2 separate regions of the Homo sapiens genome follow, and region 1 is linked to region 2. Evidence: fine-mapped expression QTL. A gene starts in region 2. The other region holds a variant in brackets. All regions are shown on one strand. Distances are from middle to middle. Region 1 overlaps TMEM131 (transmembrane protein 131). Region 2 holds the start of ACTR1B (actin related protein 1B).

The links. PIP is the estimated chance that this variant, and not a neighbour inherited with it, causes the effect.
Region 1: its variant is fine-mapped to the expression of ACTR1B in whole blood (TOPMed, PIP above 0.99).

Annotation. Positions count from the first base shown.
Region 1 is chr2:97,834,131-97,839,507 of GRCh38, forward strand. TMEM131 (transmembrane protein 131) reads right to left here. Exons shown (of 41, transcript NM_015348.2): 8 at 2,947-3,027; 9 at 645-795; 10 at 491-547. Among named protein-coding and RNA genes, the nearest start is that of ZAP70, 120 kb to the left of the region's middle. The variant A/T (reference allele first, on the strand shown) is at 2,674.
Region 2 is chr2:97,661,290-97,666,666 of GRCh38, forward strand. ACTR1B (actin related protein 1B) reads right to left here and starts at 2,755. Exons shown (of 11, transcript NM_005735.4): 1 at 2,554-2,755; 2 at 593-657. The coding sequence starts at 2,601. LOC124900516 (U4 spliceosomal RNA) reads right to left here and starts at 3,442; the gene lies at 3,302-3,442. It also overlaps a transcript of C2orf92 not described here and the pseudogene RNU4-8P. RefSeq lists enhancers at 1,217-1,858, 1,824-1,893, 2,934-3,273 and silencers at 2,254-2,313, 2,394-2,853.

The DNA of each region.
Region 1 (5,377 bases), 170 kb after region 2:
TATACATCCCAAATTACAAGTGCTCTTAGTTTTTCCTTAGCAAAAATCTTTACTTAGTTGTTTTTAATTTCAGAATTTGAGTTTTCTGAACAGCTGCAACAAACTTTCAACATTTTGTCAAAATGTAATTTAATAACTCATATCTAAACAAAATCCAGAAGTAAAAATCAAGATTCAGCGTAACTGAACTGATGAGCAACTGGATTAAGAAACTAGAAAACTATTTTCTGCCTCAATCTTCCATTTAGATGACTTAAATTATCCCATGGCCTTGTTTTCCAACCTGTTAAGCAATGCCACCCACCCCTCAGCGGAATGGGGTATAAACCTGTAAAGGCGCTGAGTCTGAAAAGGAGATTTGTACAAGATCATGCAACCAACTGAGAAATAATGTTTAAAGCTGAATTACATAGTAGAGCCATTCAGCACTGAATACAGGGGTTAAAAAAAAAAAAAACTCCATAAAGACTCTTTTAAAAGATTTTTTTACCTTGTGTTCTTAGTGTACCAAAATCTAACATTTCAGTTGAGGAATAAATTCCAGGAGCTTGGAAAAAAGAAAAGTCAACAATTATTTTTCACTTTGCCAGAGTAAGCTATACTGAAAACAAAACAACTTTCGATTTCATCAGTTTTCCACTAACCTGTTGTAACTTCAACCTCAACAGGAAGAATGATAAACTCTGTGCTGTCTGAAGCATTAGTCTTTATTCTTATGAAGGCTGTGTGATTATCTGCTTCTCTAGATGAAAAACTGGCTCTCATCACTCCCTTGGTTTCATAAGGAGGAATTTCCTGACAAGTTAACAGACCATAATGTAGCACAGCTTTTGTAATGTAGCAAAACCACCATTTTTTATTGAACTGGATGACACTGACTGAAAGATGAGTATTCTATATACCTATTAATAAAAAAAATGCATTGCTAATTAAACCAATATGTAACACACACTCCATTTCTGGAGAACTTTAAAATGTGAAAAATGTGCTGTTTAGAATTGATGAAATACGATATGTAAGGTAGGCAAAGCAAAAGAAGTCAAATGATCTGAAAACAAATTGTCAGTTACAAAATCACCATTAAAAGGTAAAACTAATCTACAAAATCAGTTATTTTTTAATATGCTAGTTAGTGGTGTTTGGGTATATAACTCAGTCTTGAAATTTAACCAACAGAAATGTCACCATCAGAGGTAAATACTTTTCTAGAAGTCCACAAGAACCTTCATAAATGATAACCAGCAGGGCTTACACTGCTCTTTCATGGAAAACTTAACAATGCAAAGCTTCTCAAGTAAATCCACAGTTTACCAACTGCATTCATGTAAGACAGCATACATTTTCAGTCCCGTAATGAGAGAACATTTATATACTAAAAGGAAGACTTACTGGAAAAAAAATTTTGAGGAGTAATCTCTTTCCTGGTTTCAGAACAATATGGCTCCCTGGGACTGCCTGAATTTCTTCTCTGCACAAACCTTTCAGCATATTTTAGGAGATTCTTGTGTTCTACAGCTTAGTGGCCTTCACTTATCCCTACTCTCTTTTTTAGTCCCAAAGTAGAAAACAGGTGATTGGGACCCTCCTAAGATTGGAGGGATGGACCATCCACTCCCCAGCTCTAGGGAGTTGACTTGGTCTCTGGGGTTTTCACCTATACACCGAAATAGGCTGGAGGTGAGGTCACAGCCCATTGGCTTTTTTCTCAGTCTAGGTTTGTAGGAATAAGAACTACCATATCTTTTTTTGCAGCCACTAGGACTATAAAAACATGCTATTCTCTGTTATCATTATCACTCTTGACTATTTAAAAATCTGAATTCTCTTAGGTTTATTTATTAGATACCAATTATGTTTCACAGGAAGTTCTTAGTTCTGTCTAGAATAATATATACAGATATAATAGTCTGAATTTAATCCTCTGAAGGATTGTTTTATAGATGATTTTTCCCTCAAACACCACAATTTCAAGGTGAAACATTTTTGTGAAAGGATATAAATGAACTGTCCATTGCATATTTCTTTTTGCTGGTTGTGTTTCTATATTCTGGGAATTAACCAAATAACTGGCTGATAAATTTGTTTCTAGATGTTCATATTAACATTCTAAAAACATAATCTCCACATCTCTTCTGTGGTCAAGACTGGTCAGAAGACAGAATCAAGAGGCTGTGTGTGTGTAACAGCAGTTAATAAAGAAACTCTGATCCTCAAACCTTACTCCTGGTTGTAAAATTTGTGTTCCTCCATTACAGATGAGCAGTGATCTGAGTGAGCTGGATATGGAACTGAATTGACCACAATTGCCTTCTCCCTCTTGAATTAAAGCATGGTAAACATTTTTAAAACTCACAAATGGCAAGAATCTTTATAAATAAGGTTCTCTTACATATTCTTTAATTTGGTTAATATTGTTAAATATTCAACAATATTGAAGGTGAACACAGATCACCTTCAAGAATTAAAATTTTTCTAAGTTATCGCAGGCACTTGACTAGGTTCTCTCTGCAAATGCCATCTCCTTTACCAATGGTGAATCTGAACATTCAATTACTTACCTTCAAAAACAAAACAAAAACATAATGAATGCTTCCTACATTTTTTTAATCATTTACATTTTTTTATGTGTAAAGCACATCATAAATTATCAGACTCAGAGACAACTTTACCCAT[A/T]TAATTCGGAGGAAGAATAGCTGAAGTTACTTTCTTTCCATGTAGTGGGGTAGAACTCCCACCAATTTTACTCACTGCCCTTTCCAAAAATTACTACTTATATTCTTTCCTCCTCCAATTTTCATATATACTTGACATAAATTAACATTAAGACAACGATTAAAGAGAAGTCATCCATATTTGTTAAGCCTATTAAGGAGTTAAATATTTTCTAATTTAAGAATAATCGGTTTCATGGGAGCACACACAAGAGAAAACTAGGTTACAACTCACCCACAGTTTTCTGGTACCTCCTTGTTGACCCGTTGGGAGTTCTAGGTGAAGGTCTCCTCCACTAGAGTACATTTCTACAACCTGGGGCAAAAGAGCACATGATGGCTACGTTCAAAGTCATATTCTCAAAGCAGGTGACTTGCTATTACACAGAAATAATTCTGACATCCTAACTGTTTATCACAAAACATTTAAAGATATAAACGTAGGATATGTATAATATCACTAAATTCAGTGCTCTGTATGTGTAAGCAATAGTTGTATTTTTAATTAAAATAAGGTAACTTTGAAAATTTAACTTAGAAACAGTGTAAGTACCATAGTTGTTCCAGAGACCAGATTTTAGAAAGTAACAGGATACTTATTTTTCTTTTTTCCAAAGGGAATCACTTACAAAAATTACCAAGTTTTGGAAACATAAATTTTGTATTTCTTACAGTAACACAAAGTGCTTCTTTATCCATACATTTATAACAAGAGCCAGCAGTGGATCAAATAACTACCATAATTGTGAGATGGGGAAGAGTAAAAATATTTGAGATATATACAAAATAACTCTAATGGAACATGAAAATATGTGGTTTCTACTGGTAGCAAAAATATTTCTGTGGCTTATGCCTAAGCTTACTTTTTTTAAACAGCTTTATTGAGTTATTTATGTAAAATAAATAATACATATTTAAAGTATACAACCTGATGAATCCTGACCTATGTGTTTGGGCATAAAACCATCACTGTAATTAAGATATTAAATATATCCATTATCCCCAAAAGCTTCCTCATGCCTTGTGCAATCCATCCATCCTTCTCTGTCCCTTCCTATTTCTAGGCAACCACTGATCTGCTCTCTATCACCTCAGACTAGCTCATATTTTCTAGAGTTTTATCTAAATGGAATAATACAACATATACTCTTGTGTCTGGCTTCTTTTGCTCAATGCAATTATTTTGAGGTCTACCACTTTGTTTATGCATTAATAGTTCACTTCTATTTGATGACTATACCGCAGTTTTTCAATCCACACATTAATGGGACATTTGAGTTGTTTCCAATGTCTGGCCATTAAAGAGAAAGCTGCTGTGGATACTGAGTACAAGTCTTGGTGTGGTCATCTGCTTTCCTTTCTTTTGGGTAAATATATATACACAAAATGGGTCACAAGGCAGGAGACCTTCCTTTAAAGGTAAGCTAACCCTAATTCTTAAAAAGAAAAAATATATTTAATTCAATTAAATTTGGGGTGAAGTATGAGAATGGGTGGAAACGTTCACTTGTTTCATCACAAGAAGTCCTCCAGGAGTGAATAAAAAAGGATAAAGCAAGAAAAATGGCAATTCTTAAGCTTAAACTTTTTTTTTTTTTTTTTTTTTTTTTTTTTTTTTTTTGAGACGGAGTCTCGCCCTGTCGCTCAGGCTGGAGTGCAATGGTGTGATCTCGGCTCACTGCAACCTCTGCCTCCTGGGTTCAAGTGATTCTCCTGCCTCAGCCTCCTGAGTAGCTGGGATTACAGGCACATGCCTCCACGCCCAGCTAATTTTTGTATTTTTCGCAGAGATGGGGTTTCACCATGTTGGTCAGGCTGGTCTTGAACTCCTGACCTCGTCATCCACCCATCTCGGCCTCCCAAAGTGCTGGGATTACAGGCATGAGCCACTGCGCCTGGACCCTTAAAGGTTTTTTTTGTTTGTTTGTTTTTTTGGCAGGGGCCGGGGAGTTGCTGCTGTAAAAGTAATGCATTTACCAAAGACTGATAAGCTATAGATTTTCTTTGTATATTATTACTTGCCTGCTGATTTGTTACAGTGCTCATCTATAGTGCTTATTGTGTTAATAATAATAGCACCTTAAATGATAGGATGACTATAGAACTTTTTCTGGAAAACCAGAAAACATCACACATTATTTCATCAATCCTTCCAAGTATCAAGCAAACAAGCATAACAATGCTTGAAAACAGAAGATTAGACCAGACTCAGTGGCTCATGCCTGTAATCCCGGCACTTTGGGAGGCCAAGGTAGCGGGGATCACTTGAGCCCAGGAGTTGTAGGCCAGCCTAGGCAACATAGTGAGAGTCTGTCTCTACAAAAAAATAAAAAACATTAGCCAGGTGTGGTGGCGTGCACCTGTAGTCCCAACTACTCAGGAGACTGAGGTAAAAGGATTGGTTGAGCCTGGGAGGTCAAGACTGCAGTAAGCCAAGATGGCACCACTGCACTCCAGCCTGGTGTCTGGAAAACCAACCAACCAACCAACCAACCAACCAACCAACCAACCAACCAACCAAAAAAACCCCCAGAAGATTAAAAAGTCGCCTACTGATAACAGAGAAAATGAATAAAGAAATAGAGACAGAAAAAGTCTAAATTACAAAGTCAAACAAATAATTACACTAAAACTAGGAACCTGACACATTCTTTATTTTTAGTCCA
Region 2 (5,377 bases):
GCTGCCTTTAGGCCACTCATTCCAAAGCCTCCAGGATTTGTGAAGAGGTGCCCCTAAGGGCAACTTTCCCAATGGGCTCGTGGTGGGTGCAAGGGGCACCCCAGGCTCTCTGGGTTTGCAATTCTTATTCCCGCCCCCACCAGTACCATACAGGGCAAAGGATCCCCTCTTAACTGAAACAAGACATTTTCTAGAGTCTGAAAACAAGCCCGGCAGAAAACACTTCCAGGGAGGAAAGGGTGGCTGTGCATCTAATTCCTCACTCTTCCTGCTCCGAGTTTAGGGCTCCCCTCGGAGATGTCTCCCTTTATTCTTGCTGCTGCTACCACACCCCATCCCCAGGGAAATGCTGGTTGCTTTTCCTCCTTGCTGGCTCAACAAGACCAAAACGAGAGACTCCCAAGACAAAGGGGAACCCTAGAACGCTTGTCTTGTTCTTTCAGTGCTCTCTCAAGAGTGTCAACCTCACAAATTTGGTGTTTTCCATACAGGTCAGGGCACAAATTGTCTTCAAAGAGCCCTGTGACAGAAGGCCAATGTTCTTACAGAAGGTAAACAAAAGGACTAAGGCTGCTGCCTGAGCCACACTTACTAGTTTGGGAAACAGTATTTGGGAATCTGGTCTCCTGCAAAGCCAGCTTTAATCACCCCCGAACCCTGCAAGGAAAAACAAAGTTGAGCTGCCCACATGCACCACCAGATGAAGCCAGTCCCCCGCAATGGAGAGAGCTGGCTGCCCCGTCAAGGCAGGCCAAGGAGGAAGCCAGGGACCCTGCCAGGATCATTTACAAGTACACCTATGGTTCAAGATTGGGGGCAATTTTGTATCCCCCTGCTCTGGCAACATTTGGCAATGTCTGGCAGCTGGGGAGAGGGGACATGCAGTGGGGGATGCTATTGGCATCTAGTGGGCAGAGGCCAAGGATGCTGCTCAACATCCTACGATGCACAGGCGAGCCTGCACTACCAACAAGGAGCTAGCCCAGAATGTCAATAATATAGAGATAGAGAAACCACGAAGGGCACCTTCCTCTGCACAACTAATGGTTGGCTCCAGCAGGATTCCATAGCACATGCTACTCCCAAAAGCTAGAAGAAACCCCTCTGTGTGGGTCTTTTTTTTTTTTTTTCAACAGCTTCCTTCTCCCCCAAGAACCCAGAAGGCATGGAACATGGACGACCTACAGGGCCTGCTGGAGAAGACCAATGGGTGCATGGGATGACCGGCAGCTTCCCTCAAGTGGCTTCCCAGAGACTACTAGGAGAACTTGGTCCTATCGCTGCCCCCACCTGGAAGCTGGACTTAAGGATCCCCCAAAGAACGGGGCAATTAGAAACCTCCCACCCAGCGAAGGGATAAGCTTCTCAACTCAGTCCCACCACTCTTCATCGCAACCCTCTGAGTCTGCAGCAGAAACAAACATCTCCAAGTTACAGAGGAGGGGATGGAATCCCCAAGGGGCCGAGCGGTAGCCCTTTTAACTTATAAGCCTGTTGATTAGCCTATACGAGTTATTTGCACGTCAAGAAAGGAAGTAGCCTGCTCCTTCCTGCAGCGTCCTGCTGGTGTGACAGCACGTCCCCAAGCTCAGTGCTAACCTCCTTATTAAACATCCCCTGCTGTGACTCAGGGAACCCACATGGGTACTCTAAAACAGTCATTCAGGGACCCCACGGGGTCATGTGGGAGGGAGACAGATCCCAGAAAGAGCACAAGTGAGTCATTACCAAAAACTCCAAGGCCCGCACACCGGACGCACATACCCAGCTAGGGGCAGACTCAAAGATCCCAGCCCTTATCTTCTCCCCATATCAGAGCTCGGAAGCCAGAAATCTTCCTAAGGCAGGTGAAAGCAAGCCGAGCCCCACTGCTGAAGGACAAAGCCACAGGAAGCCTGATGACATCTTTCCTCTGAGGCTTCCAAACGATCACCCCAAATTGCTTGCTGATACTGGGAAGAGTGGCCATGAACTCTCCATTGCTCTGCTGGCTGTGGAATGTTTGCTCAGCACAGGAAGCATTTAAGGAGAAAGTCAAAGTAGCCAAAAGGCAAACCAGATGGTGGTGGACATGTGGGTGACAGAGCATCCTGCATTTGTTGCCTCGGGGTGCAGCCCCAAAGATAAAGCCAGCAGTGTGCAAATGACAAATGCTACCCCACCTCCGCCAGGCAGCCAGAGCCAGGGCCGAAGGACGCGGAAAGGAACTGGTGTGGAAACCTGCCCAGGAACCGCACTCTCAACTGAGAAGAGTCCGGGGCGCGTCCCCGCCCGGCCGCCCGGCTGTCACTCAAGCTCTCCTGAACTTCCCCGCCCGACTCGGGGAGGGGTCGGGGAAGAGGCTCTGCGACGCGGGCGAGGGGGCTCGCCCCATGGCCGGCCTTACAAGGCCAAGAGGGCGCGCGCCCCCGGGGCGAAGCCAGCGGCCCGGCGGGGGCGACGGCCACGCAGTGAGCGGAGGACGCGCCGAGGCGGGCGGGGGTCTCTCCCTGCGCCGCCGCGTGCGCCCCCGGGGGCGGGGCGCCCGCCCTCCCCCTGGCTGCCGGGCCTCACGTTGTCGATGACCACAGGCTGGTTGGCGATGATGTCGTAGGACTCCATGGCCGGGCCGCGCCGGCCCTGCCCAGCAGGCGGGCTGCAGGAGGCACCGGATGGGCGGGCGGGCGGGAGGACCGGGACGGCGGCGGCTCCCGACGCGGCGCCGCTGCCCTCCCTCCCCGAGCCTGCAGCCTACGCGAGCCCCGCGGGGCTTTCTGGAGGGCGGGCCCGGCGGCCAATCATCGCTCCCACCTGGCCCGATTGACAGCAGGTGCCCGGGGCTGGCTGCGCGAAGGGGGCGGGGCCTCCGGAGGCTGGCCAGCCAATTGAGGTCGTCCGGAAAAAAGTGGTCGCGGCGTTGCCAAGGTAGGCTGCGCAGTGTCTGGGATGATGTCATGGCTCCGTCTTAAAGGGGACGCGGGCGGCAGAAAGTGGAGCTGGGCTGGTGTGCGCGCGGCCGGAGTCTGTGGAGCTGGAAATTCACCGGTCCAGGAAGACGTCTTTCCCGCGTCCCAGCACCGGTCCAGAAAGACGTCTTTCCCGCGTCCCAGCACCTCGGGCCACGCTCCTTCGTGAGAGCGCCCTCTCCAAGGAGGCCGGCCCTGGATATTTCACCCAAAATATTTATTTTTTCTTTTTTTCTAGGTAAGGTGTCTTGCTCTGTCGCTCAGGCTGGAAATCTTGGGCTCAAGCGATCCTCCCGCGCCAGCCAGTAGGGGGGACTACAGGCGCGCACCATATTTATTTATTTTTACTGAAATAGTCTCCGTAGAGACTGTTAAAAATTGCCGATGTCGACTATATTGCAAGTCGTCACGGTGGGGTATTGCGAAAAGTTTTCAATTAGCAATAATCGCGCTTCGGATAAACCTCATTGGCCACCATACGGCCACCGCGCAACGCTAGCTAATTAAAAAAAATTTTTTTTGTAGAGAAGGGATCTCGCTATGTTCCCCGGGCTAGCCTCGAACTCCTGAGCTTAAGCGATCCTCCCGCTTAGTCTTTCCAAAGCGTTGGGATTACAGGCGTCAGCTATTGCGCACGGCCCCATAATATTTCCTCGTTGAGCACTGAAGAAAAGATCCTTTTCCTTATAAAAATTACAGTTTCGTGGTATTTTGGTCCTGGCATTTATTGAGCACCTGCTCTGTGCCTGCGGAGCACTTCTGCCCACTTTACATAAGTTATATTAAATCCTTGCAACAATATCAGGTAGTTGTATTATTACTCCCATTTTTCAGTCAGGGTCTTCACACTTTGGTAACCTGCCCAAGATTATTGGGTGTGGAATTGGCATGCAGGTAGCCCCCTGCGGCACTGGAGTCAGCTGCTTCAAGAGTGCAGGATAGTTGAGTTCTACATTTGTTTACCAAACGGATCCATAGTTATTTCCCTGTATATATACCTCTCCCAATGGGTTGTGAGCATAAAATTTGTAAAATTGAAGCGGGTGTGCAGAAATCACAAGTGTACATGTACATTTCAATGAATGATTAAAATGTGGACACACTTGCATAACCACCGAGTTCAAGAAACAATATTGTTGCTGGAAAAGGGGTCCCGATCCAGACCCCAAGGGAGGGTTATTGGATCTTGCCCAGAAGAAATTCAAGGCAAGTTGCAGAGTGCAGTGAGAAGCGATTGTTTATTGAAAGCTACTCAGTTACAGAGTAGGCCATCCTCAGAAAGCAAGAGGGGGAACACACCCTCTTTATATTAAACTCTTCTTATAGAGGGGTCTTATCTATGTAAAAACTAAGCTATGTCTACATGAGGGTGGGCTGACAGCATAACAAAATTTAGTGCTTTTTGATTTAAAGAAAGTTATCCTTGGCATTTTAATGCATAAATACATCAAAGCATGACTCTCTCTCTCTCTCTCTCTCTCTCTCTCTCTCTCTCTCTCTCTCTATATATATATATATATATATATATATATATATATATTTTGTTTTGTTTTGTTTTTTTGAGACAGGGTCTCACCTTGTTGCCCAAGCTGGAGTGCAGTTGCCTGATATCAGCTCACTGCAACCTCCACCTCCCAGGCTCAAGCTATCCTCCTGCCTCAGCCTTCCAAGTAGCTGGGACCACAGGTGTGCACCATCACGCCCAGGTAATTTTTTTGTATTTTTAGTAGAGACCGGGTTTTGCTATGTTGCCCAGGCTGGTCTCGAACTCCTGAGCTCAAGCAGTCCACCCACTTTGGACTCCCAAAGTGCTGGGATTACAGGTGTGAGCCATCGAGTCCTGTAACTATAACTATCTTAAATCATATATTGTTAGGCAATATTGGAGCATCTGGACATTTTGTTGTTGTAGGATTTTGTCCTTGCAGGCATTACTAAACTGCTCTTTTAGCCATAGCATCTTATGACCATGGGTTGGGACTAGCAAGGAATGTGCCTTGCTAGTTTTAAGATGGAGTTGGGGCCGGGCGCGGTGGCTTATGCCTGTAATCCCAGCACTTTGGAAGGCCGAGGCGGGCAGATCACGAGGTCAGGAGATTGAGACCATCCTGGCTAACACGGTGAAACCCTGTCTTTACTAAAAATACAAAAAAGTAGCTGGGCGTGGTGGCATGCGTCTGTTGTCCCAGCTACTCAGGAGGCTGGGGTAGGAGAATCGCTTGAACCCAGGAGGCGGAGGTTGCAGTGAGCCGAGATCGCGCCACCAGCCTGGGCGACAGAGTGAGACTCCGTCTCAAAAAAAAAAAAAAAAAAAAAGATGGGGTTGAGATGGGCACGGTAGCTCATGCGTGTAATCCCAGTACTTGTGGAGGCTGAAGTGGGTGGATTGCTTGAGCCCAGGAATTTGAGACCAGCCTGGACAACATGGCAAA